Homo sapiens: one gene and its partners. The protein of the gene in region 5 purifies or fractionates together with the protein of the main gene of each other region. This does not show direct contact. Each region holds a gene or a part of one and is shown on either strand. Other genes may lie near its edges. The genes, in order: XRCC2, ALDH1L1, SDHAF4, STARD7, NDUFAF5, CTH and BOLA3.

What was found.
Region 1: the proteins of NDUFAF5 (region 5) and XRCC2 purify together in Homo sapiens (affinity purification with mass spectrometry; 3 studies listed by BioGRID and IntAct, with this or other methods). This does not show direct contact.
Region 2: the proteins of NDUFAF5 (region 5) and ALDH1L1 purify together in Homo sapiens (co-immunoprecipitation; one large-scale study listed by IntAct). This does not show direct contact.
Region 3: the proteins of NDUFAF5 (region 5) and SDHAF4 purify together in Homo sapiens (co-immunoprecipitation; one large-scale study listed by IntAct). This does not show direct contact.
Region 4: the proteins of NDUFAF5 (region 5) and STARD7 purify together in Homo sapiens (affinity purification with mass spectrometry; one large-scale study listed by BioGRID and IntAct). This does not show direct contact.
Region 6: the proteins of NDUFAF5 (region 5) and CTH purify together in Homo sapiens (affinity purification with mass spectrometry; one large-scale study listed by BioGRID and IntAct). This does not show direct contact.
Region 7: the proteins of NDUFAF5 (region 5) and BOLA3 purify together in Homo sapiens (affinity purification with mass spectrometry; one large-scale study listed by BioGRID and IntAct). This does not show direct contact.

The regions. Positions count from the first base shown.
Region 1 is NC_000007.14:152,665,561-152,669,903, reverse strand, and holds part of XRCC2 (DNA repair protein XRCC2), read left to right. Parts: intron 1-4,343. UniProt on the Homo sapiens protein: Involved in the homologous recombination repair (HRR) pathway of double-stranded DNA, thought to repair chromosomal fragmentation, translocations and deletions. Part of the RAD51 paralog protein complex BCDX2 which acts in the BRCA1-BRCA2-dependent HR pathway.
Region 2 is NC_000003.12:126,170,076-126,174,418, forward strand, and holds part of ALDH1L1 (cytosolic 10-formyltetrahydrofolate dehydrogenase), read right to left. Parts: intron 1-4,343. UniProt on the Homo sapiens protein: Cytosolic 10-formyltetrahydrofolate dehydrogenase that catalyzes the NADP(+)-dependent conversion of 10-formyltetrahydrofolate to tetrahydrofolate and carbon dioxide.
Region 3 is NC_000006.12:70,576,599-70,580,941, forward strand, and holds part of SDHAF4 (succinate dehydrogenase assembly factor 4, mitochondrial precursor), read left to right. Parts: intron 1-2,815; coding exon 2,816-2,968; intron 2,969-4,343. UniProt on the Homo sapiens protein: Plays an essential role in the assembly of succinate dehydrogenase (SDH), an enzyme complex (also referred to as respiratory complex II) that is a component of both the tricarboxylic acid (TCA) cycle and the mitochondrial electron transport chain, and which couples the oxidation of succinate to fumarate with the reduction of ubiquinone (coenzyme Q) to ubiquinol.
Region 4 is NC_000002.12:96,198,449-96,202,791, forward strand, and holds part of STARD7 (stAR-related lipid transfer protein 7, mitochondrial isoform 1 precursor), read right to left. Parts: intron 1-4,343. UniProt on the Homo sapiens protein: May play a protective role in mucosal tissues by preventing exaggerated allergic responses.
Region 5 is NC_000020.11:13,818,695-13,822,564, forward strand, and holds the end of NDUFAF5 (arginine-hydroxylase NDUFAF5, mitochondrial), read left to right. Parts: 3' UTR 1-2,886; downstream 2,887-3,870. UniProt on the Homo sapiens protein: Arginine hydroxylase that mediates hydroxylation of 'Arg-111' of NDUFS7 and is involved in the assembly of mitochondrial NADH:ubiquinone oxidoreductase complex (complex I, MT-ND1) at early stages. May also have methyltransferase activity.
Region 6 is NC_000001.11:70,413,736-70,418,078, reverse strand, and holds part of CTH (cystathionine gamma-lyase), read right to left. Parts: intron 2,124-4,343; coding exon 2,042-2,123; intron 143-2,041; coding exon 47-142; intron 1-46. UniProt on the Homo sapiens protein: Catalyzes the last step in the trans-sulfuration pathway from L-methionine to L-cysteine in a pyridoxal-5'-phosphate (PLP)-dependent manner, which consists on cleaving the L,L-cystathionine molecule into L-cysteine, ammonia and 2-oxobutanoate.
Region 7 is NC_000002.12:74,137,565-74,141,907, forward strand, and holds part of BOLA3 (bolA-like protein 3), read right to left. Parts: intron 1-4,343. UniProt on the Homo sapiens protein: Acts as a mitochondrial iron-sulfur (Fe-S) cluster assembly factor that facilitates (Fe-S) cluster insertion into a subset of mitochondrial proteins. Probably acts together with NFU1.

The DNA of each region.
Region 1 (4,343 bases), on a different chromosome or scaffold from region 5:
CACTATGTTGCTAGCCTTGGCCCAAGCATCCTTTCACCTCGGCCTCCCGAAGTGCTGGGATTACAGGCATGAGCCACGATGCCTGGCCTCCCCATCAGTTTTGTTGAAAACAGCAACTGTGTTGGCTACATCTTTATATCCCTAGCACTTACCTCAGTTCCTGGAACATACTTGACTTGCATGAAATGTTCACCGGTAAGTGGCCAGGCATGGTGGCTCATGCCTCTAATCCCAGCACTTTGGGAGGTCGGTGCAGGCAGATCACTTGAGGTCAGGAGTTTGAGACCAGCCTGGCCAACATGGTGAAACTCCGTCTCTACTAAAAATAGAAAAAATAGCCGGGTTTGGTGGTGGGCGCCTGTAATCCCAGCTACTCAGGAGGCTGAGGCAGGAGAATCGCTTGAACCCAGGGGCTTGCAGTGAGCCGAGATTGTGCCTCTGCACTCCAGCCTGGGCGACAGAGTGAGACTCTGTAAAATGTTTACCATTAAATGTCTGTATAATTGAGCATTATCTCTTTTGCAGACTAAATGCTTGCTCCAGCAATGCTGCTGCTGCTGAAGACATTTGGGACACCTTGTTAGTGTTCAAGTTTCAACTAAAGGAATGGTTGAAAGAAGTCAGATAATCGCCCAGACAGGACCTCAGATGGCTTTCCTCCTGTTTTTTAATTTTTAACTTTTATTTTTCTGTAGAGGTGGGATCTCACTATGTTGCCCAGGCTAGTCTTGAACTCTTGGCCTCAAGTACTCCTGCCTCAGCCTCTCAAAGTGCTTGGATGACAGGTGTGAACCACTGCACCTGGCCTGATTTTCAGTTTAATAGGTCCAAAAACTCAGTTTAGTCCTTGTACTCATATTTGATTAGTCTCAGTGATACTGAGGTTGTATAGCATAGTAGAAAAATTCCAGGCTTTGAGAATCACAGAGATCTTGATTAAATCCTGGCCCTGACATTTACTAGTTTTCTCATGTGAAAAATACAATAGTAACAAATAGGGTTGATGTAACAATTAAAGGACATAATATAAAGAATGTACTGCTGATCCCACAGTAAGCTCAAATAACTATTATTAGATAGCTATTGTTACGATAATAGAACTTAGCAGATGCTGATTTACAATCCAAGTATCAAATCTATTGACTCACAATATTAGTGAAACTGTCAAATAGATTAAAATTATTATGTCCACTGTGTATTCTTTTCTAGTTAGGAAATTTTGCCTCGGAAAGGTTGCTTAGAGAATTAAGAGAAACAGTTTGTCATAATGGCTATCATCACCAAGCTCTGATGCCTGATGTATTAGTCTTCCCTAAGAGGATTAAACTGTCATGTCAAGCAGAATTTACTTGGGTTCCCTTTACCCTGGACACTTAACAAACTCTTCTTTCGCTTCTGAAACTGCAGGTTGACCATACCTTGCTTCTATTGACTCTTTCCTTGAATCTGGACATCATTAATTTTAATTTTCTGTAATAGGCCTATGTCAGATTTTTGGAGTACCTCTTTTCTTATCCATGGAGGATATGTTCCAAGACCCCCAATGGATGCTGAAACCACAGATAGTAGTGAACCCTATATACACTATGTTTTTTCCCATACAGTAATGAACAGGTAGTGTGTACAGCATGGATATGCTGGACAAAGGGATGATTCATGTCCCACGTGGGACAGAACAGGATGGTACGATATTTTATTATGCAACTCAGAATGACATGCAATTATTGAAAACTTGTGTATTTATTTCTAGAAGTTTCTGTTTAATAGTTCCGAACTGTGGTTGGCTATAACTGAAACCACAGAAAATGAAACTGCAGATAAGGGGGGACCAGTGTATTTTCTGCCTATGTTTAGAAGTTTCTTTTTTTTTTTTTTTGAGATGGAGTCTCGTTCTGTCTCCTAGGCTAGAGTGCAGTGGTGTGATCTCGGCTCACTGCAACCTCCACCTTCTGGGTTCAAGTGATTCTCCTGCCTCAGCCTCCCGAGTAGCTAGGATTACAGGCGCCCACCACCATGCCTAGCTAATTTTTTGTATTTTTCATAGAGATGGGGGTTTCACCATGTCAGCCAGGCTGGTCTGGAACTCCTGACCTCAGGTGATCCACCTGCCTCAGACTCCCAAAGTGCTGGGATTATGGGTGTGAGCAACAATTACAATTGTTAATTGTAATATTAACAATTTGCTTGGCTTGTGAATTGTTAATATTATCCATTACTTGTAAATTTAAATCTATTTCCTATTTCTGGGAGGTTCTTTCACCCCCTTTATAATTCAGTATACTCTGCTTTGACGTTGTAAAACGTTGCTTTGGATATTCTCAGTGGTGGACAGTTTTTCTCCTTTGAAATTAAATTTGATTTTCTAAGTAACAGTGGAAAGTCTGATGCAGATTGCCTAATCCTTGTGGGTAACTAAGAGGAGTAATACCATCTTCGCCCAAAAGAGTCCCGTCAATAAAATTATAATACTTTTTTTCTTTTTTTTTTTTTTTTTTTTTGAGACGGAGTTTTGCTCTTGTTGCCCAGGCTGGAGTGCAATGGCGTAATCTCGGCTCACCGCAACCTCTGCCTCAGACTCAAGCGATTCTTCCGTCTCAGCCTCCCCAGTAGCTGGGATTACAGGCATGTGCCACCACGCCTGGCTAATTTAGTATTTTTAGTAGAGACAGGGTTTCACCATGTTGGTCAGGCTGGTCTCGAACTCCCAATCTCAGGTGATCTGCCCACCTTGGCACTCCCAAAGTGCTGGGATTACAGGCGTGAGCCACCGCACCTGGCCTATAATACTTTCTTGAGTACTATTTTGCCAGGATTTCTCAGGGGTGAGGATTCTACAGTGTTTTGAGAAATGACAGTAAGAGTAAACAATTGGAGTGTCTTCCCAAGTTAATCTAATGAGGATGTTATTCATTCGTATACATGCCTTTGAAGATATTTTATAGTTGTTTCCACGTGCTCTTTCTTGTCCATGAAAGTCTCTCTGTCTTGCTGGGCGCAGTGGCTCATGCCTGTAATCCCAGCACTTTGGGAGGCTGAGGCGGGTGGATCACCTGAGGTCAGGAGTTTGAGACCAGCCTGACCAACATGGCGAAACCCCATCTCTACTAAAAATACAAAAATTAGCCAGGCATGGTGGCACACGCCTGTAATTCCAGCTACTTAGGAGGCTGAGGCAGAAGAATCGCTTCAACCCAGGAGGTAGAGGTTGCAGTGAGCTGAACTTGTGCCACTGCACTCCAGCCTTGGTGACAAAGCGAGACTCTGTCTCAAAAAAAAAAAAAAATAAAGAATCTGTATTTTTCTTTGAGTTATACTCTTTCAGTCTTGTAGCCCAGTGGTTCTTATAGGTTTTAGTCTTAGGACTATGTAACACATTTAAAAGTGGGAGATTCCACTGGGCATGGTGGCTCATGCTTGTAATCCCAGCACTTTGGGAGGCTAAGGTGGGAGAACTGCTTGAGTCCAGGAGTTCGAGACCAGCCTGGACAACATAGGGAGACCCTGTCTCTGCAAAAAGTAAAAAAATTAGCTGGGTTTGGTGGCACACACCTGTGGTCCCAGCTACTCAGGAGGCTGATATGCAAGGATTGCATGGGCCCAAGAGGTCAAGGCTGCAGAGAGCCATGATGTCATCACTGCACACTCCAGCCTGGGTGACAAAGCAAGACCCTGTCTCAAAAAAAAAATTATTGAAGAATCTAAAGAGCTTTTCTTTATGTTATATGTGTCCATGAAACAAATTTAAAATTTTAAAATATTTACATTCATGTACAGTGACACACACATTGAATATTTTTATAAAACATATTTTTATGAAAAAAGCTGTATTTTTCTAAGAAAAAACTGAGAAAAATGATGTTGTTTTACATATTTGCAAATCTTTTTAATATCTGGCTTAATGGAACTGGGTTCTTATGCAGTCTGTTATCATATGTTGGTTGGGTTAAAGTATATGAAGAACATCCATCCTCTCAGAGAAAGTCACGTTGGGAAAGGGAGGAGTATTTTAAGACCTTTTCACAGAATTATAGATATTCTTCTTGGTTACTGTTACCAAAGCTTGACAAGTAGTAGTTTTCCTAAAGGCTAACTACAATGTGGGATATAAAATCTTAAGACCTTGGCCAGGTGCAGTAGCTCACACCTGTAATTCCAGCACTTTGGGAGGCCAAGGCAGGTGGATCACTTGAGCCCAGGAGTTCGAGACCAGCCTGGGCAACATAGTGAGACCCTGTCTCCTAAAAATAACAAAAAAAATTAGCTGGACATAGTGGCACGAGCCTGTAGTCCAGCTACTTGGGAGGCCGAGGTGGGAGGATCACTTGAGCCTGGGAGGTTGAGTC
Region 2 (4,343 bases), on a different chromosome or scaffold from region 5:
GAAATCTTAAGCTAAAAATCATAAAAGTTAAGTAACTAAGTAAAAATTGCTCATCTTACTCAGTCTCAACCCCACCTCACCAAATACTTTTTGTCGTTTCTACTTCTCCTTTTAAGCCAACTATTAAAACCTTTTTTAATGAAAATTATTTACTATGACACCCTCGCGGGAACTGCTGTACTCACTCTACTATTTGCAGTAGGACTGTGAACCCTCAGAGTGGAATATCTGACAGAGAATCTCAATTACTGTAGCATTTTGCTTAATTATTATCCTCATAGCAGGAATAACAGTTACTAACAAAAAATAACACATGGGTCTTTCCAAACATGCACCTCTGCCTGTCATTAAAAAAAAAAAAAAAAAAAGTTACTTCTGTCTCAACCAGTCGGGCCTAATAAAAAATGCTGCTGAAAAGCCTAGGACTAATGTTTTTACTCTGCCTAATTAACCTTTATCAAAAATTTTTAACCGACAGAATCATGGCCATTTCGCAACTACCCAAAAACATCTACAAATGGTGTTGATCCTACAGTCAATCTAAGACCAAAAAACTCTCCACCCCCGCATCAGCAGGAAGTAGCTAGAAAGAACATGTCCCCTCTTGTCCTTTTATAACCATAGGGTCTGGAATGATAGAGCAGGAGTACTGTCATCTCAGACAAACACCGCCACTTTAAATTCCAGCTCCCTTTCTAGCCTCATGCATTTCAAGGAAATCACTTCTCTTCTAACTACAAGCAGCCAGAAAGAGCAGACAGTAAAACACGGATAAGACAGCTGGGACACAAAGGGAGGTGGGGGGAAAGTATCTTGGGTAACTGCCAAACTTCACCCTCATACGATGGGCCCCAGTAAAACAGTGGGCCTTAATAATAAGGAACAAGCACATTCCCTTTCCTTCAGGGGCACTAAGACAGGAAAGCTAAAAGCAGACTCTTGGCTGGGCGCGGTGGCTCATGCCTGTAATCCCAGCACTTTGGGAGGCCGAGGCGGGCGGATCACGAGGTAAGGAGATCAAGACCATCCTGGCTAACACGGTGAAACCCCGTCTCTACTAAAACTACAAAAAATTAGCCAGGCGTGGTGGCGCATGCCTGTAGTCCCATCTACTCAGGAGGCTGAGGCAGGAAAATCGCTTGAACCTGGGAAGCAGAGGTTGCAGTGAGCCGAGATGGCGCCACTGCACTCCGGCCTAGCGACAGAGCGAGACTCTGTCTCAATAAATAAGTAAAAACAGACTCAGGGACTATACCTGCAGCTGCAGGAAAAATGTATGAAAACAGGCACACAACTCTCCCTCCCAGATAAGCACAACAAAGAGACACAGAAGCAGTCCAAGCCTCTGATAAACTCTCCCATCCTGAATCCTTAAAAACTCAGTCTGTAAGAGAGTGTGCCTCTGACCTAACTTGGCCAGAAGGCTCCTTTCAGGTTGATTTTCTCTAAAATAAATGTCTTAACTGGCAAGCCAGCTTTTGTATTTCTTTCCTCTTTCTTTAATTCTTACAGTTCTCACAGTAAGGATTGGAGAAAAATCCCCTTCTGGTTTTGGCAGGAGGCAAGGAAAGCAGTCATTTTTTTCTCAACATATCTACCCTCATAGAAACTATTATACCAGAGCCTAAGTGAATGGACACCCAGGGCCTAACTAACCTAAGTGATGAGGAAAAACCCAAATCCAGCCCCTCTAGCCTTTCTCATCACCTAAAAGGGGTAGGACTGAGAAACACTTGTGAAGGTCACAGCCCAGGGGTGCAGGCTCACTGAAACACTAAGACCTAATTGTAGGACTGTAAAACACTTCCCCCCACCAAAACACCTTGCTACTACATCCACAGGGCTCCAGTATAGTAACAAGGGGATTACGGATAAGAGAACTGCAAGCCAGAGCCTATTTAAGGAGTTTCTACAAAAACCCAAAGACAACAGGGTAGACAAAAACAAGAAGATGAAGAGAGAAAATTATATCCTCTGATACCCACAGCTATAGCAAATAGTAAACACATTCTAACTCCTAGACAGGTAAATATCAAACCTCACACTAAAAGCCTATCTACCTCAGTACCTTTTACCCAATACATTATATCTGATTTTCTGCAAAACAATTACAAGATATATAAAAGACAAAAACACAGTTTGCAAAGATGAAACAAGCACCTAAACCACAATCAGATATGGAAGCAATGTTGGAATTTTCAGATGGAAAATTTAAAACAATGATAATTAAAATGCTAAGAGCTCTAATGGAAAAATGTGGAGAACATATAAGAACAAATTGGTCATGTAAGCAGAGAGATGGAAATTAAGAAAAAAATCAAAAAAAGTCTAGAAATAAAAACCCTGTGATAAATGCAAAGAATGTCTTTAATAGGTTTATCAATAGACTGGATACAGTTGAGGAAATAATCAATGAGATGGATGAAATATCAACAAACACTTCCCAAACTGAAATGCAAAGGGAAATATAGAATAAAAAAGACAAAACAGAATATCCAAGAATGGTGGGACAATTGCCATAGGTGTAAATCCTTGTAATAGGGATATCAGATGGAATAAAAAGAAAGAAAGGAATAGTAAAAATGTTTGAAGTGATAATGACTGATAATTTTCCAAAATTAAAGACAGATACCAAACCAAGATCCAAGCAGCTCAGAGGAAACCAAATAGGATAAAGATCACCCCCCACCCCCCAAAAAATCTATACTTAGGCATATCATATTCAAACTGCAAAAAATAAAAGACACAGAGATAATCTTCAGTGAAGCCAGGGAGAGGCAGGGCAGGACACCTTACCTATAGAGGGAGAGAGATGAGGATTACATCAAACGTCTCTTCATAAACCATGCAATCAGGAATAGAATAGAAAGAATTATTTAAAGAACTGAAAACATTCCATCAACTTAGAACTAACTAGATTCCATCTGTATGCAGTAAAATTGTCCTTCAAAAGTGGAGGAGAAAGACTTCTCAAACAAAAATTGAAGGAATTTGTCACCAGTAAACTGCCTTACAAGATATGTTAAAAGAAGTAATTCAGAAAAAAAGGAAAATTAAACAAGTCAGAAACTCAACATACAAAAGAGTATTAGAAATAAATGTGAAATAATTTTTTTTCTTATTCTTAATCTGAGAGATAACAATTTGTTCAAAATAATAATTGCAACAATGTATTCAGTGATTGTAGCTTATGGATAAGTGAAATGAATGATAGCAGTAATAATAAGGCATGGGAGGGAGGAATCAAGAATACTCTGCAATAAGGCCCTTACACTACCCATAAAGTTGTATAGTGTTATTCAAAAGCAGACTTAAATTAGATTTAAGTGTATATTGCAAACTGTAGGTCAACCACTAAAAAAGCAACAACAAAAAAGTAAAACTGATATGCTAAGAGAGAAAAGAAAATGGAATCATATAAAATGCTCAGTTAAGATCAGAAAAGGCAGAAAAAAGTGTGGAAGAAAAAAGAAACAAAGGGCAAATAGAAAACAGTAATAAATATGGTAAATATTAATCCAACTATATCAAAAAATCACTTCAAATATCAATGGTGTAAATATACCAATTAAAACATGTGACTATCTAGAGTGAATAAAGAATCGTGACCTAACTATATGTTGTCTACAACAAACCCATTTCAACATAAAAACCAGATAGGTTACAAATAAAGGGATGGAGAAAGATATACCGTGCTACCACTAATCAAAAGAAATATGGAGTAGTTCTATTAACTTCAGATAAAGCAGACTTCAGAGAAAGGAAAATTATTAGGAATAAAGAGAAGCACTACATAATGGTAAAGGAGTCAATTATCCCAGCAGACATAATACTCCTTAATATGTATGTGCCTAACAACAGTGCTAAAATGTGTAAAGCAAAAACTGACAGAATTTTAAGGAGAAATAGATGAATCCACTATTATTACAGTTGGAGACATCAACACCTCTCTGTCAGTCCCCACTAACGTTTTTTTTGGGGGGGCGGAGTTTCACTCTTGTTGCCCAGGCTGGAGTGCAGTGGCACGATCTCGGCTCACTGCAACCTCCGCCTCCCGGGTTCAAGCAATTCCCCTGCCTCAGCCGCCCGAGTAGCTAGGATTACAGGCATGCACCACCACGTCCGGCTAATTTTGTATTTTTAGTAGAGCCTCCATGTTGGTCAGGCTGGTCTCGCACTCCTGACCTCAGGTGATCTGCCCACCTCGGCCTCCCAAAGTGCTGGTATTACAGGCGTAAGCCACCGTGCCTGGCCAGTACCCACTAACTGATAGATCCAGCAGGCTGGAAATCAGTAAGGACATAGTTGAACAGCACCATCAATTAAGTGTATCTAATTGGCAT
Region 3 (4,343 bases), on a different chromosome or scaffold from region 5:
GTGTCTATTTCTTTAAACAAGGTAGGGTTATGTAGTGATGACTAGAATATGAGAAAAATATGTGTAATGAAAAAACATTCTAATATGTAATGCTGTCAAAAGCTTACAGATAATTCCATCAAACTAAAAATAAATACTGTTTATCACTATCCTAAAGGCATAAATTGTCCCGTTTACTCAGCAATCTCATGTGACAGGTACTGTAATTTTTCTGTTTACAGGGAAGGAAACAAAAAGGGTAACTTGACCAACATCCAACACCTAGTAAGTGGTTGCATTTGTTTCCTATTGCTGCTGTAACATATTACCACAAATTTGGTGGCTTAACACATTTTACAGGTTTGGAGGTCAGGAGTCTGGAAGGGGTCTCACTGAGCTAGAACCAGGGAGTTAGCAGGGCTGTGTTCCTTCTGGAGGCCACATACATTTCCTTCTCTCTTTTAGCTTCTAGAGGCTGCCCACATTCCTTGGCTTGCCCCCTTCCTCCATCTTCAAAGCCAGCAACATCGGGTCTGGTCTGTCTTCCAACCCTGTCTTCCCTTTCAAAGGACCCTTGTGGTTACATTGACCCACCCCATAATCCTGGATAACCTCCCTATTTTAAGGTCATCTGATTAGCCACCTTAATTCTGTCTGCTACCAAAATTCTTCACCGTGTAACCAAACCTATTCACAGATTCTGGGTATTGGATTCTGATTATCTTTGAGGCCATTATTCTGTTTGCTACAGAGGTGTAGCTAGAACTTGTACTCAAATTGATCTGCTTCTAAAAGCAATTTCTTTAGGAAGCTGGAAACCCCTAACGCTGAGATCACTTTTTTCCCTGTGGTTTTGCCCTTGCTGAATATTATCTCAATGAGGGTTTGGATAACTTTTATAGCATAGAAAGTTCAACTCTTTTTAGAAACTAGAGAGAAAATGATGTCATTTACGCATTGCAGACACCCAGTACATTTTAAAATCCGAAGTTTTATTTTAGATTCAGGGAGTACACGTGCAGGTTTGTTACCTGGGTATATGTGTGATGCTGAGATTTGGGATACGAATAATCCCATCACCCAGGTAATGAGCATAGTACCTAAAAGTTAGTTTTTCAACCCTTGCATCCCCTTCTTCCCTCCCTGACAGTCGTACCCAGTTTGTATTGTTGCCTTCTTTATGTTCTTGAGTATCCAGTGTTTCACTCTATAGAATTAGAAAATTATATGTGAGAATATGCAATATTTGGTTTTCTGTTCCTGCATTAGTTCACTTAGAATAATGGCCTCCAGCTGCATCCATGTTGCAGCAAAGGACATGATTTCATTATTTTTATGGTTGCATAGTATTCCATGGTATATATGTACCACATTTTCTTTATCCAGTCCACCATTGATGAGCACCTAGGTTGATTCCATGTCTTTGCTATTGTGAATAGTGCTGCAGTGAACATGCAAGCGCATGTGTCTTTCTGGTGTGAAAAATGAGTAGTTTTCTTTTGGGTATATACCAGTAACAGGATTGCTGGGTCAAATGATAGTTCTGTTTTAAGTACTTTGAGAAATCTCCAAACTGTTTTCCACAGTGGCTGAACTAAGATACATTCCCACTAGCAGTGTATACGCATTCCCTCTTCTCTACAGCCTCACCAGCATCTGTTGTTTTTTAACTTTTTAATAATAGCCATTCTGACTGATGTGACATGGTCTCTCATTATGAGTTTAATTTGCATTTATCTACCAATTCGTGATGTGGAGCATTTTTTAATATGTTTGTTGGCCGCTTATATGTCTTCTTTTGAGAAGTGTCTCTTCATGTCTGTTGTCCATTTTTTAGTGCGGTTGTTGTTTGCTTGTTGAGTTGTTTAAGTTCCTTATAGATTCTGGATATGAGACTTTTCTCAGATGTGTAGTTTGCAAATATTTTCTCCCATCCTGTAGGTTGTATGTTTACTCTGTTGAGCGTTTCTTTTGCTCTACAAAAGCTTTTTAGTTTAATTAAGTCCCATTTGTCAATTTGTTGTTGTTGTTGTTGTTGCAGTTGCTTTTGAGGACTTAGTCATAAATTATTTCCCAAGACCAATGTCCAGAAGAGTGTTTCCGAGGTTTTCTTCTAGGATTCTTACAGTTTGAGGTCTTACATTTAAATCTTTAATCCATCTCGAGTTAATTTTTGTATGTGGTGACAAATAGGGGTCCAGTTTCATTGTTCTGCACATAGCTGCCAACTATCCCAGCACCATTTATCAAATAGGGACTTCTTTCCCCATAAAACAATCTTTTTTTAGAGACATGGTCTCACTATGTTACCCAGACTAGAATTGAGCTCCTGGGCTCAAGGAATCCTCCCTCTTCAGCCTCCTGCATAACTGAGACTACGGGTGCATGCCACCATGCCCAACTTGATGTATTCTTAAATTAGTTGACAGGAAAAGAGGACCTTGATTAGGATTTAAATGTAGCCACTTCTGACTTTTAGAGATTTGAATACTAAATATTGTCATTGAAAAGTTTGTACTACTAAGTTACTCTTAATATTTGAACTCCTGGTTTTTTGGCATTGCTTCAGATAGGAATTAATGTTTTAATATAAGTTTCTGCAATATTGATAACAATTAACTAATTTATTTCATAGCCCTTCTTTTCAAACTGGTGGTCTTCCAGGAAGGGAAATGGCTGGAGAGGAAGGAAGAATTTTCACTCTGCGTCCTTTTGTACTTTTTGAACTTTGAGAAATGTGAATGTATAAACTAAAAACAAATAAATAAAATTTTATAAATGTTTAAAGTGGAATAAATGAACAGCTCCTATTTTTCTATTATCTCCACTCTTCTAGGATCACCCCTTCTGTGTCATTCTCTGAGGAAAACAAGTTCTTCTCAAGGAGGAAAGTCTGAACTTGTCAAACAGTCCCTTAAGAAGCCGAAGTTACCAGAAGGTCGTTTTGATGCACCAGAGGATTCCCATTTAGAGAAAGAACCACTGGAAAGTAAGTATAATAAAGCACCTCTCAGTTTTTGAAGTATCAAGGAAAGTGTTTTAGTTATTGAGAAAATGAGTGAAAGGAAAGAAATTTGTTATTGCTTAAATTCTGTAGTAATAAAGCATATTTCAACAATGAGTAAAATCACCATATTGACCATCGATACATGTAGATTTCTTAATAAAAAAGATTTTCAAGATTCTGACAGGTATTTGATTGTGTTTGTTTTATTTGTTATACCTCATTATTCACATAACAAAATATATAAGTTGAGACCTTCTTTGTTACAAATAAATGATGTTATTTGTATCAAAGAAGGTTATGTTATTTGTATCAAAGATCTTATGTGAATAATGAGGTATAATAAATATAACCACTTTATATATGTAATGTACACATATTATATATAAAGGACTCCAATAACTCAACGAAAAGTCAAAAATAGCAAAGCACTTGAGTCTTAACTTATATATTTTGCTATATGAATAATGAGGTATGATAAATAAATAACAAATATATGTGTATATTATATGTATGTGTGTGTGTGTGTAGAACTCCAGTAATCTACAAAAAATAAAAATAAAAAATAGCAAAGTATTTGAGTAGACATTTCTCCAGAGAAGGTATACAAATGTACAAATGGCCAACAAACACATGAAAAGATGCTCAGCATCAGCATCATTATCATTAGGGAAATGCAAATCAAAACTATGAGATACTACTTCATACCCACTAGGATGGCTATAATAGAAAAAAATGGAAAATAACAAGTGTTGGGAAGGATGTGGAGAAATTGAAACCCTCAGGCATTTCTGCTGGGAATGTAAAATGTTGCAGCCACTGTGGAAAACAGTATGGCCGTTCCTCAAAAAATCAAACTTAGAACTACCGTTTGACCCAGCAGTTCCACTCTTAGGTGTGTATCTAAAGGAATTGAAAGCAGGGACTTGAACAGATATCTCTGTAACTATGTTCATAGTATTATTAACAGTAGCCAAAAGGTGGAAACAACCCAATGTTCACAAACAAATGAATCATTAAACAAAATGTGGCATATACATCCGGTGGAAAACTATTCAGTCATAAAAAGCAATTAAATTTTAATATATGCTACAACATGGATGGACCTTGAAAACATTATGTTTAGTGAAATAAGCTGGACCCAGAAGGGCAAATATATGATTCCACTTATATAAGGTACCTAGAATAGGCAAATTCATAGAGACAGAAAGTAGAATAGAGGCTATCAGGGACTCCGGGGACTAAGGGAGAAGTCATTGTTTAGTGGGTACAGAGTTCATTGTGGGGATGATGAAAATGTTTTAGGTATAGATAGTGGTGATGGTTGTACAACCTTGTGAATATATTTTTGTTGTTGTTT
Region 4 (4,343 bases), on a different chromosome or scaffold from region 5:
AAGCAACTGCCAAAATGTTTTCCAAACAATTACACTATTTTATATTCACATCAGCAATGTTTGAGGATTCTAACTGCTCCACATCCTTGGTTCCAATTGCCCCACTTGTTATTGTCCATCTTTGTTATTCCAGCCAACTTAGTGGGTGTGAAATGGTATCTCATTGCGTCTTGACTGGTATTTCCCTAACCTTTTCATGTGCTTATACTAGTCTTGATAGTATCCTTTCATGCATAAAAGTTTTTAATTTTGATGTTTATTTTTTCTTTGATTGCTTGTTTTTGGTGTTATAGCCAAGAAACCACTGCCTAATCCAAGGTCATAAGAACTTATGCCTATATTTTCTTCTAAGAGTTTTAGAATTTTAGCTTACATTAGGTCTTTACCCCATTTCAAGTTAATGTTTGTGTATGATAATGAGGTAGGAGTCTAAACTCATTCTTTTGCATCTGCTTCTCCAGGTGACCCAGTGTCATTTGTCGAAAAGCCTATTCCTTCCCCAGTGAACTATCCTGGCATCCTTGTTGAAAACTGACCAAAAATGTAAAGGTTTATTTCTAGACTCTCAATTTTATTCTAACAATCTAGATGTCTATCCTTATGCCAGTACCACAATGTCATTACTGTAGCTTTGTAATAAGTTTTGAAATTGGGAACAGTGAGTCCTCCAAACTTTGTTCTCTTTTTTCAAGACTGTTTTTGCTATTCTGAGTTCCTTTCATTTCCATATGACTATCAGAAGTGGCTTGCCAATTTCTGCAGAACTGCCTAGGATTTTGATAAAGACTACACTGAATTTGTAGATCACTTTAAGTGGTATTGCCATCTTAGCAATATTAAGTGTTCTAATCTAATCCATGAACACGGGATGTCTTTCACTTATGTCTTTTTAAATTTCTTCCAATGATGTTTTGTTGTTTTTAGTGTTACAGTTTTAGTTGTACACTTGTTAATTTATTCGTATGTATTTATTCCTTTTATGCTACTGTAAATGAAATTGTTAATTTTATTTTCAGATTCATTGTTAGTGTACATAAACATGACTTCCGTGTATTGATCTTGTATCCTGCAAACTTGATGAACTCATTTATCAGCTCTAATTGCTTTCTGTAGATTCCTTACTATTTTCTAAATATAAGATCATGTCAGCTGCAAATAGAGATAGTTTTATTTCTTCTTTCCAATCTAAATGACTTTCATTTCCTTATGTTGCCTGATTTCATTGGTTATGACCTCCAGTACAATGTTGAACAGAAATGGTGAGAGCAGAATCCTCATCTTGTTCCTGATCTTAGGAGAAAAGCACTAAGTCTTTTGCCATTAACTACACTGTTAGCTATGTTTTTTGTAGATGCCTTTTATCAGCTGCAAGAAATTTCCTTCTATTCCCAGTCTGCTGAGTGTTTTCTTTTTTAATCACAAAAGGAGGCTGGAATTTGTCAAATACTTTTTGTGTTTATTCAGATGATCACGCAGTTTTTGTCCTTTTTTCTATTAATATGGTGTAATAAATTGATTTTTGTATGAAGAACCGACCTTGCCGTTCCTTAAATAAATCCTACTTTTCATGGCATATAATCCATTTCATATATTGCTGAGTTCAGTTTGTTAGTATTTTGTTCAGGACTGCGAAAAGTTGTGTGGTTTTTTTTTGTTTGTTCTGAGCCCAGGCTAGAGTGCAGTGGCATAATCACAGCTCACTACAGCCTTAACTCCCCAAGCTCAGGTGATTCTCCCACTTCAGCTTCCCAAGTAGCTGGGACTACAGACAAGCACCACCACATGCAGCTAATTTGTTTTCTGTATTTTTAGTAGAGATGGGGTTGCACCATGTTGCCCAGGCTGGTGTTGAACTCCTGGCCTCAAGTGATCCACTAGCCTGGGCCTCCCAAAGTGCTGGGATTCCAGGCGGGACTCACCGGCTGCAAAAAGTTTTAAAACATGAAAAACACCACCATATATTGTACTATGTATCACTATGTATCATTCAGGGGTATATACATATGTATAAAAACATAGGGAATTATATACAACAAATTGGGATAATGGTGACATCTTGGGGAAAAATAAGAATACAACTGGAAAAAGGTACAGAGGAACCCTAAGTATACTTGTAATATCTTATTTCTTAACATAGCTGTACTTGCAACGCTCGTGTTATTATTTAAACCTTTTTTATATATCTGAAACATTTTATAATAATAATTTTTTAAAACTTGGCTTGTATTTTTCCCATAACCTCTTCTTTTTTGAGACAAAGTCTCACTATGTCGCCGAAACTGGCCTCAAATTCCTGGGCTTAAGAGATCCTTTCACTTCAGCCTCCCAAGTAGCTGGCACAATAGGCGTGTGCTACCATACCCAGCTTCTCCGTGCCCTCCACCTCACCCTACCCCCTGCAACATTTAAAGAAAGGTTACAGATAAGAAACAAAAATTGCTGGCTGGCTGTCTTATACACTCTATTGCAATTCAAGACTGAAGAAGACCCAAATTACTGCTACACTGTCTGAAATGCCTTTTCACCCTTCAAGCTTCAAAAAACCACAAAGGTAACTGCTAGGCAGAGTTAACCATACACACTGATTTTTATTCCTTTACACAGGCATATTACACTATAATTAATCTATCTTTATATCTGCTTTCCTTACTAAACTATAAATTCCTTAATAGCCCAGAATCAGTCTTTTTCATATTTGTAGTTCCAGCTCCTAGCATGTCCTGGTAAACATTACATGTCCTGGTAAACATTACATACATTACATGAATAAATTTAGTAAATCAAGAAATAATAAAATGAAAATAGGCCTCAGTAATCCAAATTTTTATTAAAAGATTGCATTAAGGCCTGGGGCAGTGGTTCACGCCTATAATCCTCAGCATTTTGGGAGGCTAAGGTGAGCAGATCACTTGAGCCCAGGACTTCAAGACCAGCCTGGGCAACATGCAAAACTCCACCTCTAAAAAAAAAAAAAAAAAATTACACAACAAATAGCTGGGCGTAGTGGCATGCAGCTGTAGTCCCAGCTACTGAGGAGGCAGAGGTGGGAGAATCACCTGAGCCCTGGAGGTCGGGACTGTAGCGAGCCAAAATCATGCCACTGCACTCCAGCCTGGCAACAGAGTAAGACTCTTAAAAAAAAAAAAAAATTGGCCAGGTGCAACGGCTCACACCTGTAATCCCAGCACTACAAAAAAAAATTAGCCAGGCATGGTGGCCTGCGCCTGTAATCCCAGCTACTCAGCAGGCTGAGGCACAAGAATCTGTTGAACCCAGGAGATGGAGGTTGCAGTGAGTTGAGATCGTGCCACTGCACTCCAGCCTGGGTGAGAGTGAAACTGTCTCAAAAATATATATATATTGCATTAATATATTGCTGCAAAAGCCAAAAATTCAAAGGTATAGTGTCAATCCAAGATTAAAAGTTTAGAGCAATTCAAAATAATGGTAAGTCTAAAGATTTGTGTTCTAGTCCTGGCTCTACAGCTGACCAGCTGTGTGATCTTATTTTATTTTACCTTTAAAGTGAGGACGTTATTTCTTGAAGTCCTATTAGTTCTAAAATTGAATTTGCTGAATTTTAAGCTTTGGACTTGGATGAAAATATTTATATAGGGGAATATTTGTCATTTTGACTGCCTGAAATCCCTTTCTATTTGGAAAGAACCCAAATAGGTGAATGCAGCCCCCCTCCCGCCCACAAGCAGTTAAAGCACAGCTCCTAATTTAAGTGAGGTTAGAGACTTCTAGAAGGGGCTTTGCATCTTGAAGATAACACAAAGGCACAGGATCTTGAGGGAGCTGGGAGTCCAGGAGTACAACCAATCTGGGGGAAAGAATGCCAGCAACACTGCTCTAAGTAGATTATTCCTGCTGCAGGTCTTGGTCAACCTGTACCCTGGCCTTGTCAATACTGAGTGACCTAATACCGTTTTGATTAATTCCTTTTTGGCTTAAATTAACCAAGACCAGTTTCTTTGTTACAACCAAGAACCCTGACCAGCTGCAAAACCATAGAGAAACAGAGAAGGAACCTTAGGATAGGCATTTAGATGTTGCAGAAGAAGAGCAAAAGCAAAACCATAGCTAGATTTGCTCAGAGAACAATCAGGCACCATAGGGCATCGATTACAGCATTTTTGAGGTCTATAAAGCATCCTTCAACAATAACTAAGCACAACTCTTGAGTGTCATTCTTTAAAAAAAATTTTTTTCTTCATTGCCCAAGCTGGCCTCAAATTCCTGGGCTCAAGTGATCCTCCAGCCTCCCAAGTACAGGCACATGCCACAACACCTGGCCCGAATTATCATTCTTGCCACATAATAAAGGGGAGCATGTTTCC
Region 5 (3,870 bases):
AATGGGTAAATTCCAGGGGTCTATATTTCCAAAAGGACATGTGTTTTTGTGCACTAATACTTGTTTTTGAAGAACACATCTCAGTGTTAAGTGGCTGTTGCTGAGGAAGGGGACTGAGGAACTGGGTGTGTCTGTGTCATTCTGTTTGAATGTCTGTCAGGGGTATAGAAACTAGGAGGGAGACTTGTACTTTTCACTTTTTAAACTTCCTGTAAAATTTGAATTTTCCAAGCAAGAATATTACTTTTGCTTATTTAATGTCAACGGAATTATATGTGGATGGTGGGGTGGAGCTAAGGATTACTCTACTCTGGCTATCCCAAAAAAAGCTCCATTTGTTTAAAAAAATTAAGTAAATCAAACACAGCTAATTGAGGACCCTTATTGTTTAATGTGAGTGATTGTAGTGAAAACACTTATTTTAGTGTGTATAACACTAGTGAAATTATTTTTGTAGTTAAATCTGCTGGAAGTGTGCTATTAAGCTTTTATTGTTTGGAGCCCTCAGGAAACTAATTTTTCTGAATAACCACATTTTCCAAATGATTAAGAGCTCATCCTTTTAAGCAATGAAACTTTTAAAAGGTCTTTATCAAAAATTTTTCATAAATGTTACATTCTTAAATGGTATATGATAAATAATCATCTTTTTTGTTGGTTTATTTTTTTATTTTTTATTTTATTTTATTTTTTGAGACGGAGTCTCGCTCTGTCTCCAGGCTGGAGTACAGTGGCGCAATCTCGGCTCACTGCTGCCTCCGCTTCCTGGGTTCAAGTGATTCTTCCTGCCTCAGCTTCCCAAGTAGCTGGGATTACAGGCGCGTGCCACCACGCTGGCTAATTTTTGTATTTTTAATAGAGATGGGGTTTCACCATGTTGGCCAGGATGGTCTCAATCTCTTGACCTTGTGATCTGCCCACCTTGGCTTCCCAAAGTGCTGAGATTACAGGTGTGAGCCACCAGGCCTGGCCAATAACCATTTCTTGATAACCCCACAGATAATATCATAAACTCAAGTTGTCTGTATTGCTTCTTCCCAGACTGGTCCCAAGAATGCTGTGGTTGGTTTTGTGTCTTTTCCAGCACTTTTCTTACTTGCTGTCAGTTGTCAATCTCAACACCTTGACCAAAATGAACTTTCTTGAGTCATTTCTTCTCTGTTTAGCTATAAGATTAGAATTCATACTGAAAGATTTCTAGGACTTTTGTATTAAGGTAGGAAAGAGGAACTAGGTTCTGGGAGAAAGACTCCTTTGGAATAAAATTCATGAGCTTTATTGGTTCCTTTAACAGATCTTCATTGAGTTTCATGTGCCAGGCATCCAACTAGTCTCTGCTTTTATAGTTGTCAGTCTGACAGGGCTCTAGTATGTGCACACCGTGACACCTGTTGGCTGCCAGGAGACTGTTTGGCTTATTTCCTGGTTCTTAGCAATATTCCAGGTTGGCCTGGAGAATTCCAAAGGTAAATATGAAAATGTATACCTACAAAAGAATTTTTGCTTTATAGGAAGAATTTGTAGGATTTATTGAGATGTAAGCTACCTATATACATCAAGTATGTGATATGATTGTAAAAAGTTACAGAAGTGTGTGAGTCATGAAGTACCTGTGAGGGAAGTTTATATATTTTTTCAAACTCTTTTAGTACCATTTTCATCCACTAGGTGGAAGCAATTACAGTATGACCTGCATTAAAGACATGTACAGTTTTTTGGCCGGCTGCAGTGGCTCACACCTGTGATCTCAACACTTTGGGAAGCTGAGACGGGAGGATTGCTTGAGCCCAGGAGTTTGAGACCAGCTTGGGCAACGTGATGAAACCCTGTCTCTACAAATAAAAAAAAAATTAGCCAGGCATGGTGGCACAAGCCTGTGGTCCCAGCTACTCAGAAGGCTGAGGTGGGAGTATTGATCGAGCCCAGGAGGTCAAGGCTGCAGCAAGCTGTCGCACCACTGCACTCTAGCCTGGGCAACAGCAAGACCCTCGTCTCAAAAAAGAAAAAAAAAAAGTACAATTTTTGTATTGATTATGTATTCCTTAAGTAGGAGTGGAATAAAAGTATTTTACCGTGGATTGGCTTCTGTGAAGGAAAGAAGTGAATATTAGTAGATATTTGGAAAAAAGAAAGATAGTTGATGCAGTGATTATTATTCTGTTCCTTTGTAAGTTACCATTAGCCTCTCTTGCTTAAGAAATATTTTGAGCTTTTTTGGGGAGGGGTTGTGGTTAATGATGTGAAATTAATCTTCAGGAAATTTATCATAAGCAGACTTGCCTTTTCAGATATTGGTATATTTTAATTCTCTACCTGAATACATACATGACAGTTATTTTACCATGCTGGTTTAAAAAACATCAATTTGAAAATACTAGAAGGTGGGGTGAACACTGATAAGTTACTGTTAACAAATAAGAAAATAATGCTTTGCCATCTGTGGTGGTTTTAAAATCTATCCACAAATTTTTGATATGCTTCTCTTTAAGACGGGACACTTCATTCCCCTCTAAGTACAGGCTGAGTTTAGTGATTCCCTTCCAACAAATAGATGGTGTGTCACTTCTGAGACTAGGTAATAAAAGGCATTGCATCCTCCTTACTCTCTCTTGGATCCTTCACTCTAGGGAAAGCCAGCAGCCATATTGTAAGGCCACTCAACTCCATGGAGAAGACCTAGAAGTGAGGAGCAGAGGCCTCCAGCCAAAAGCCATGTGAGGGAGCCATCTTGGAAGCAATTCTCCAGGCCCAAACTTCAGATGACTGTGGTCCCAGCCAATGCATTGACCACAACCTCATGAGAGACCCTGAGCTAGAACCACCTAGCTAAGCCACTCTCAAATATCTTATCTACAGAAACTGAGATGATAAATGTTTGTGGTTTAAGCAACTGTGTTTTAGAGTAATTTGTTACACAGCAATAGATAACTGATACGCGATACACTGTCTTCAGGAGGTGTATTAGGGTGGGCAAGGTATTCTGAGTTGTTATTTTCAGCATAAAACATAGCCCCCTTATTTACAATTAGGTAAAGTTAACATAAACTGTATTACTTTTGTTCTCAGAGAACACCAGACCTGAAATGCTCTTGCCTGGAGGTTTGATTCCATGATATCTTGAAATGGAACTAACTTCCCACATTAAGTTTAGTAGGCCTCAAATTTTCTTTCCTGGGAATATTAGGATAAATTTTTTGGAAGCCTCGATGGGCTAATTTCCAAATGAAATCAGAGAATTTGGGAAGACCATGAGAATTCAGTGAGCTACATAACTGCACACAGATTCTTCAGCCAGTTCCCTTCTGCCGTAGCTGTTGAGTTGCGACAGCTCATTAGGATGGACTGTTGACACTGCATACTTGTTACCAGGCTCACAAATGAGTACAAGGATGTGGAAATAACAAGGACTCTTTAAAGCCAGACTTGATCGTACATTGTTAGTCACTGCTAAAACCAGGCAAAAGTAAATTGCCTGCACTTTGAAAGTGGCCATTGTAACCCGGCCAGTGTCTAGACTCTTCATTCAGGAATCACACGTTTGGCCAGGATGCCCGTTGCTAGTTCTGTCAGAACAGGTCTGGTGGTAGAATATCAGGAACACTTACCAGGTGTACTGTTTTTGTGCTCAGAGTGTTTGTGCTCAGATTGTGAGTGGGAGATTGGGAAGAGGAGAATTCCAAAGAAAGACTTGCCAGTCTGCCATAAAAAACTATGGAAGTCAAAGAAAGGTCGGGGACTGGGAGTCAGGTGGTCTGGGTTTAGTGCTGGTCCTGTTTGTTCCTAATGCTGGGGCAGACTCCATCTCTCTGACCTCAATATCTTCATCTGTAAAATTACAGGTTTGCTAATTGGTGAGTCTCAAAGGAGGCT
Region 6 (4,343 bases), on a different chromosome or scaffold from region 5:
CTGTAAAATACAAGTTTACAGAATATAAATGAGAGGGGTCACCTACCTCCATACACATCATCCATACAAATAATTTGGTCTCCTGCTTTTAAAAGATGGGTAATAGTTACAGTGGCTGCTAAACCTGAAGCAAAGGCCAAACCTAAAATAAAAATCAAGTTAGAGTAAGCTGAAAAGTCAGGCCTATAGGTTACAACACACCTCCAAGTATTTACCTGACTTACTTTAATGCAGATAGGAAGCCATCACTGCTGAGTTGCTAGAGGCCCCTGATTAATACCATTACAAAATCTCCTTTTCTATTTCAAGAATAAGATATCTTTAAAATAAAAAATATATAATGTGGACAGATACTTTTGTGTTAAGTCAATTTTGCCTTGGTAATAATATTTCTCTGAAACACTTCAAGAAAATAATTCTTTACAAATATCTGAGATAAAAGGCCTATTGCCAGTTAAACTACAGTTTAAAAATAGCAAACTAAAGGAATTTCAGGGCAGGCGTGGTGGCTAATGCCTATAATCCCAGCACTTTGGGAGCCCAAGGCAGGTGGATCATTTGAGGTCAAGATTTCGTGACCAGCCTGGCCAACAGGGTGAAACTCTGTGTTTACTAAAAATACAAAAATTAGCCAGGCATGGTGGCACATGCCTGTAATCCCAGCTACGAGGGAGACTGAGGCAGGAGAATCGCTTGAACCCAGGAGGTGGAGGTTGCAGTGAGCCAAGATTGCACCACTGCACTCCAGCTTGGGTGACAGAGGGAGACTCCATATCAAAAAAAAAAGAAAGAAAAGAGAAATTTCAAACATAAAGAATAGAGCAAAGATATGATTCATACGTTAATTATATGAATATGCAATTCAGTAAATATTTTAACAAAACTCGCAATCAGACCTGAGATTTGTCTGATAAGTGTAATCACAATGAATACACAAGACTCTCTTCATTAAAAAAAAAAGTTTAGGGAGTTAATCTCTAATCTCTGACAGCACATTATCAGGAGTTATTGACCACTGAAAATAACTTTAGTGCTATTCTCAGGCACAAATTATTAGGTGAATAAACCAGAGGATAAGCAAGTTTAGGCCAAGTGTGGTGGCTCACATCTATAATCCCAGCACTTTGGGAGGCCGAGGTGGGCAGATCACTTGAGCCCAAGAGTTCCAGACCAGCCTGGCCAAAATAGCCCCATCTCTACTAAAAATACAAAAAAAAGGCTGGGCGTGGTGGCCCACTCCTGTAATCCCAGCACTTTGGGAGTCCAAGGCGGGAGATCACGAGGTCAGGAGATCGAGACCAGCCTGGCCAACATGGTGAAACCCCATCTCTACTAAAAATACAAAAAATTAGCTGGGCGTGGTGGCAGGCACCTGTAATCCCAGCTACTTGGGAGGCTGAAGGAGAAGAATTGCTTGAATCCAGGAGGCGGAGGTTGCAGTGAGCCGAGATCCTGCCATTGCACTCCAGCCTGAGCGACAAGAGCAAGACTCTGTCTCAAAAAAAAAAAAAAAAAAAAATTAGCAGGGTGTGGTGGTGCACACCTGCAATCCCAGCCACTCAGGAGGCTGAGGCAGGAGAATCGCTTGAATCCTGGAGGAGGAGGTTGCAATGAGCAGAGATTGTGCCACTGCACTCCAGCCTGAGCAACAGAATGAGAGACCCTGTCTCAAAAAAAGATTTTATATTCTAATAGGTGGTGTTATTAAATTTAATTTCCATTTATTTATTTATACTGACAGTTTCAGATGAAGATTGTTTTCACATGAATACTACATGATAAATGTAGTATTAATAAATGTAGTATTCGTGTGAATTTTTTCCTTTATTCATTTGTCCTCTATTCATACGTATTTTTACCTGATGATTACACATATGCATATTATACCAACTGAGGGACCTTGGGCAAAGAATTCAAAGGCAGTAGAACAGGAATTTTGAACTAGCAAATCTGTTTCTTTTCAGTTCCACATTCTGTGCCTCTATGGTTTTCTCTATACATTTAAAAATAGATTCTAGACTGTGAAATGGAAATTACTTACAGTACTTAGCCCCATCCAGTGCTGCCACTGCTTTTTCAAGGCAATTCCTAGTGGGATTTCCAGAACGGCTATATTCAAAACCCTGAAAAAAACAAGTTCGAGTTCATCCTAAGAGATTTCAGTTTATTATCAGAGTCCTAACATAGAGAACTATAGTTTCACCCTACCATAATTAGTTTCTATTCTTTAGTCATGATATGTCTTGCTTTAATACAGAAGCAGAACAGTGCTGTGGCTATAGTCAAGATGCTCTGAAGTCAAACAAACTCTATGTGAATTCTGTATCTGCCACTTATGAGCTGCATGACACTAGGTAAGTTACTTCACATTTCCAAGAGTCAATCTCAATATCTGTAAAATGGGAATAAAATACAGATATCTGGTTCATAAAATTGTTGTGAAGATAAAATGAGATAATGCACAAATTCACTACATGTTTCCTGGCACATGCTAATCACTAAATAAATGACAGTTTTTATTATTAGTATGTTTATTATGTTAGACTCACCTTTTTTCATTAATCTGGAAACATTAGGAAAAGGGACTTGCATGAGCCAACAGAATAAACCTAATTCTAACCTGTATTTCATTTCCTAAGAAATAAATGATTAAGTGATACAAGTTTTTTTTTTTAAGGATAGGACCTCACTCTGTTGCCCAGGCTAGAGTACGGTGGGGCAATCATAGCTCACTGCAGCCTCAAACTCCTGGGCTTAAGCAATCCTCCGATCTCAGCCTCCTGAGTAGCTAAGACTACAGGTGCATGTCACCATGCCTAACAAATATTTTAATTTTATTTTTTGTAGAGGCAGTCTAGCTATGTTGCCCAGGCTGGTCTTGAACTCCTGACCTCAAGCAATCTTCCCACATTGGTCTCCCAAAGTGCTGAGATTACAGGAGTGAGCCATCTGTCAGGCTGATTCAAGTTCTATTTAGCATACAACAGGAAGTTATGATCACATCCTACCAATGCTCAACATTCATTCACATCTTGGCTCTACAAAAGTGGCTCAAAGCATAGGGAGCAATTCCTGGCAAAACAGCTCCACACAATACTTTTTAAAAATTTGCATTCCTATAATCCCAGCTACTCGGGAGGCTGAGGCAGGAGAATTGCTTGAGCCCAGGATGCGGAGGTTGCAGTGAGCCGAGATAGTGCCACTGCACTCCAGGCTGGCCAACAGAGCGAGACTCTGTCTCGGGAAAAAAAAAAATTGCATTATTCTCCTTTTACATATATGGCACCCTGCTAGCTATATTCATCCAGTCATTCTACTAATCCTTATGACTGGCTTTGAGGAAAGTGAAGCCAAATGCAATAGTACCTAGGGAGTGTCAAAACCGGATTGTGAACCAAGGATTCGAACATTAATTAGAAGTCCTATAATTTTCTCCCTCTGCTTCACATAACATAACAAAACACAACCACTCTTTCACCTTTGTTTCTGATTCAGAAGCTCCCAGTATTAACAACAATAACTTCTAAAAGTTTTGTTGCTATGTGCCCTTGTTTATGACAAGTTGAGCAGACTTTTTTTTTTTTGAAAGGGAGTCTCGCTCTGTTGCCAGGCTGGAGTGCAGTGGCGCAACCTCCACCTCCCGGGTTCAAGCGATTCTCCTGCCTCAGCTTCCAGAGTAGCTGGGACTACAGGCACGCCACCACACACAGCTAATTTTTGTACTTTTTTAGTAGAGATGGGGTTTCACTACGTTGGGGAGGTTGGTCTTCATCTCCTGACCTCATGACCCACCCGCCTCAGCCTCCGAAAGTGCTGGGATTACAGGCGTGAGCCACCGCGCCCAACCTGAGCAGACATATTTTATAGGGCTCCAGGATATCCTTACCCCTCCCCACCATCACCTTCTTACCATGACCTGCAGCTGTACCCTGCAGATTAAAAAAAAAAAAGTTTGGATTCACGTGGCTTCTGCCACAGAAAGGTACCTCCCGTTTCTCATTCAGCTCTTCAAATTCCCTTTAGTGGTCTTAGCTGATTTTTAAAAAGGGCCGGGCGCGGTGGCTCATGCCTGTAATCCCAGCACTTTCAGAGGTGAATCACCTGAGGTCAGGATTTCAAGACCAGCCTGGCCAACATGGTGAAACCCCGTCTCTACTAAAAATAAATAAATTAGCTGGGCATGGTGGCGGGCAGCTGTAATCTCAGCTACTCGGGAAGCTGAGGTAGGAGAATTACTTGAACCCAGGAGGTGGAGGATGCAGTGGGCCAAGATCGCACCACTGCACTCCAGCCTGGGCAAGAGAGCAAGACTCTGTCTCAAAAAAAAAAAAAAAAAAAAGATA
Region 7 (4,343 bases), on a different chromosome or scaffold from region 5:
AGTCCCATCCCCTTATTTAATTAAAAAAAAAAAATAGAGTCTACTCCTTGTCCAAAGTCAGCAAACAAGCGAGTAATGGAATCAGGATATGAACCCAGGTATCCTGAGGTCCTGGCCATACCTGGTTTCCATCATGTTCCTGACTTGCCCTGATCCGGGAGCTCCTGTTGTGTTGGGGGACAATGAGCTGCCCCACTTGGCCTACACTGCACACCCTCCAGCTCCACAATCAAGTGCAGGGCCCTCAACTCTGCGGACAGGCAGAAATGTCCCTGGAAAAAGCCTCATATAATCACTGGGCGAAGGTCCCTGGGCCACTTGCTCTCTGCAGGCGTGGAATGCTCCCTAGAGACTGTGTCTGTGCCTGGACCACAACCAGCCTCTCCTCCTTACATCCACCTTGGCTGGGTGAGGGCCCAGTCACACCTTCATGTGACTGACCCTGGACAGAGGAACCTTCTGGGCTTCACCCACTCAGGCCCTGCGCACTCCCCCTCCCTGATGCCTTCTCCCTGCTCTCTGTGCAGCCCCTGAGGGCTTCCCAAAACACACTACAGTCCCTTACAGCCACACAGGGTCTTAGAGATCACCTGAGTCACTCTACAGTTAAGGAAACTGGGGCCCTGCTGGGGGAAGTGACTTGGCCGAAGTCCCATGGGTAATAAGATGCAGCTTGGATAACCATTCTTAAGCACCTGCTATGCCCACAGCACTATAGTAGGTGCTGGGGACACAGAGGAAAAGGCGTGGGAAAGTAATGAAAGAGAAAGTAGCATTAAGTCCAACACAAATGGGCTGAATGTGGGCAGCAGAGGACTGCCAGACTCAAGCCAGCACAGCCCTGCTTCCGGTGTTCGAGGTGAGCTACTGCACTGGTGACTGGGGTGGACGCACAAGGGCCACACACAGGAGGCAGCCCTGGAGCTGGAGCCAGAGGTGGAGCAGGCAAGAGTGAGAGGGCATCTGCCCCAGGACAGCAAAGTGAGGAGAGGCTGGGAAGCTCCCGTGATTCACTGAGGTAGGCACATGTCAGGGAGACTGAGGCAGATCACATGAAGAATGGGCAATCCCAGGCTAGGAAGACTGGACTGGATTCTGGGCAACCAGGGGAGCCACGTAAAGGCTCTGAGCAGGGGAAAGACATTGGTGGAGGCGCCTTAGGGGAGGGCAATCCCCTAAGCTGGAAAGAGGCCGGAGGCAGGGAGACGGCAACAGCTGTTTAGCAACTGCCTTCCACGTGGCAGGCACGACGCTGGGCACCTGTGGTCAATGCCTCATGCAATATTTGCCAATATGAGGCTCAAATCTCACCTCTGTCCACCTCAAAAGGCAACTCAGTGATCACCGTGGCTACCTACCTACTCTACCCTTGCTGACACCTCCCCAGGATGGCAGGAGGACAGGTAGGGAGGTGCTCCTGGTACAAAACCCTCAACATCTAGGCCTCCTAGGGCGTGGCCCACAGCAAATGCCCAGTAAGTATTTCCCAAGAGAAGGCTGACGCACTGGGCCCTGGGAGAGGCTGAGCCCCGCGCAGCAGGGTCCCAGAGGAACGAGTCCATTCCTGAGGGTGCCGACAGGGGGCGCCCCCTCCAGGGAATCCCGCAGGGACAGTCTGATGGGAAGCTCAGGAGGGATGCCAGTATCGGATGGGTTGGGCGACCTTTTCAGGCCTTTTGGGCAGAAAATTCTGACTCTACAGCACCAGGATGAACACTACTACGCATAGGGTGAGTAGGCAAAATAGATGAGGCAAGCTTCACCCCGTCAGGACACCAGGCCCCCACCCAAACAGCCTGGGCATGAGAGCATCTGGATGGGGCACCTACCCCACCCCCACCTCACTCCTGAAGAGACCAGCTGGCCCTGGGAGTGGAGTCCAGTTACCACCTTGCCTTCCCCTTGATTCCAGGTCTCTGCCTCCTCCTAGGGCAGTGCCTGTCAGAACCCCATTCCCAACAGCTGTCCTGAGCAGGGCAGCTCCAGGTCCCGGCTCAGACCCTGCCGGCCAACAGACTTGTTCCTGAAGATTTTCATTTTCATTCTTCTCATGCGACTGTCAAAGCCAACATCTCCAGACTTAAATCATCTAAAATTGCCTATGACCAAGTCCATATATTTTAACACAAGTGTCAGCCCCCTAAGAATGTACTGTGGCCAGGCTCAGGGGACCCCCTCATGTCAGCTGCCTGCAGACATCCAGTGTGGAGCTGCATGACCCCCCCAAGTCCTGAGCCAGAAGGGCTGTTCTGGCTGGGGGCAGAGGAGAGGCCTCTAGAATAACTCAGGATGCAGCTGCTCTGGGCACAGTGGCTCACGCCTGTAATCCCAACACTTAGGGAGGCCGAGGCAGGAGGATCGTCAAGGAGTTCAAGACCAGCCTGGGCAGCATAGTGGAACCCCATCTCTATATAAATATAAAAATGTATATTTTTAAGGTTGGGCATGGTGGCTCATGCCTGTAATCCCAGCACTTTGGGAGGCCGAGGCAGGTGGATCACCTGAAGTCAGGAGTTCGAGACCAGCCTGGCCAACATGGTGAAACCCCATCTCTACTAAAAATACTAAAATTAGCCAGGTGTGGTGGCGGGCGCCTGTAGTCCCAGCTACTTGGGAGGCTGAGGCAGAAGAATTGCTTGAACCCAGGAGGCAGAGGTTGCAGTGAGCCGAGATAGCGCCACTGCACTCCAGCCTGGGTGACAGAGTGATACTCTGTGGGAGGGAAAAAAAAGAAGTATATATTTTTAAAAAGTGCCCCAATGTCAGGATGTGAGTTCTCCAAAACAGAATGCCTTTCAGATACTAAAACATAATTTCCATGGGTAAGCCAATAAGAAAACACAAGCCAACTCTCCTCACTCTCTGCAAACTCTCAAGAAATACTGACTGGGCTCCTTCCATGTGCCAGGTCCTTTGTTAGGTGTGGGGGACACAGCCCCGTCCTGCAGTAAGCCTGCTTTCGAGGGGGAATGAAAGACAAGTGACTGGGCTGTCTACTCAGGAAGTGTGAGGAGAGGCACATGTTGCTATAGGGGGCCAGAAGACACCTTAATCCCAAGACCGTGAGGTGACACTCCCCCAAACTGTGGGAATCACAGCCCTTCCCCACCCCAGACTGGTGCAGGTTCCTTCCAGTGTTGGAGATGACAATGATGGTGATGGCGGTCACATTTATGGAAGGCTTACTATGTGTCGGGCAGTGTTGTCAGTGGTCAACGTGTACTTTATCACGAATCCTCACAGCAACACTTTGAAGCAAGTACTGTTACTCTCAATTAGGAAACTGAGGCAAAGGGTGAGGTTGAAAAACTTGCTCAAGGTCACATGGCTAGAAAGTAGCAAAGCCCAGATTTGAAAGTGGGAAGTCCAATTCCAGAAACTGCTTCCTTAACCACTTGTAACTGTGGTTTCAGGCCAAGGGACACACTCAAATTACCAGCACCTATGGGTCCAGTCACACCAGGTGGCTTGTACAGATCTGAGAATAAAACCCAAAGTGCCACGGGTTGGGGATCATCTGGCCAGCCAGGTCTTCCCTGTCTTGTCTTCTGCCTTGATTCTGACCCCAGAGATCACATGGGACTGCAAGAGTTTCCGGGAGGGCTCAGTGATGGAGCACCCAGCAGACCACCAGCATGCCTTAGGGCTGTAGGGGTCACATCCACTGCAAAGGGCTACGTTCCATGAGAAACACAAAGATGGATCCCAAAGGGCACTGGTCCACAAAGGGCTGACAGGTTGCAGGGTCAGACAGCAGAGATGTCCGTTTTCAGGACACAAGACGGAAAACACCGACAGCCAAAAAAGGGGGCCGGGGAGGGTGGGGGAACGGCATTCATTCCCTGCTGGGGAGGGAGGGGAGGCAGCATTTGAGCTGAGTGGAGGACGGGAGGAAGGGCAACCCAGGCAGAAGGTCCAATCTGGGCAAAGGCCCAGATAGAGAAAGAGAGAGACCAGCGGGCAGAGGCCGGCTGGGAGGGTGCACGCAGAGAAGGGTGGGGGGAAATGCGTGAACAGCAGTCTAGGACACCTGAACTCAATGCATGAGAGGCCACCGAAGAGACGCTCATTACCAGTGCTGTGCTTTACAAAAATAACACTAGTTCACAATGGCAAGACCTTCCAGAACGATGCCAAACACACCCAGTGAGGGGGCAAATTCATAGGTACAGGTACAAGGGTCAAAGTTGGTATAAATTCCAAATTAAAATAAATATGGATAATATTTAAACTGAGCCTTAGGCTGGTTGAACGTGATGTTCCAGAACCCAAATGTTCTGTCATTGGGTCTGGGGCAGCTGCAGCCATTCTCACTCATGCCATGCATCAACTGACTCATCTGT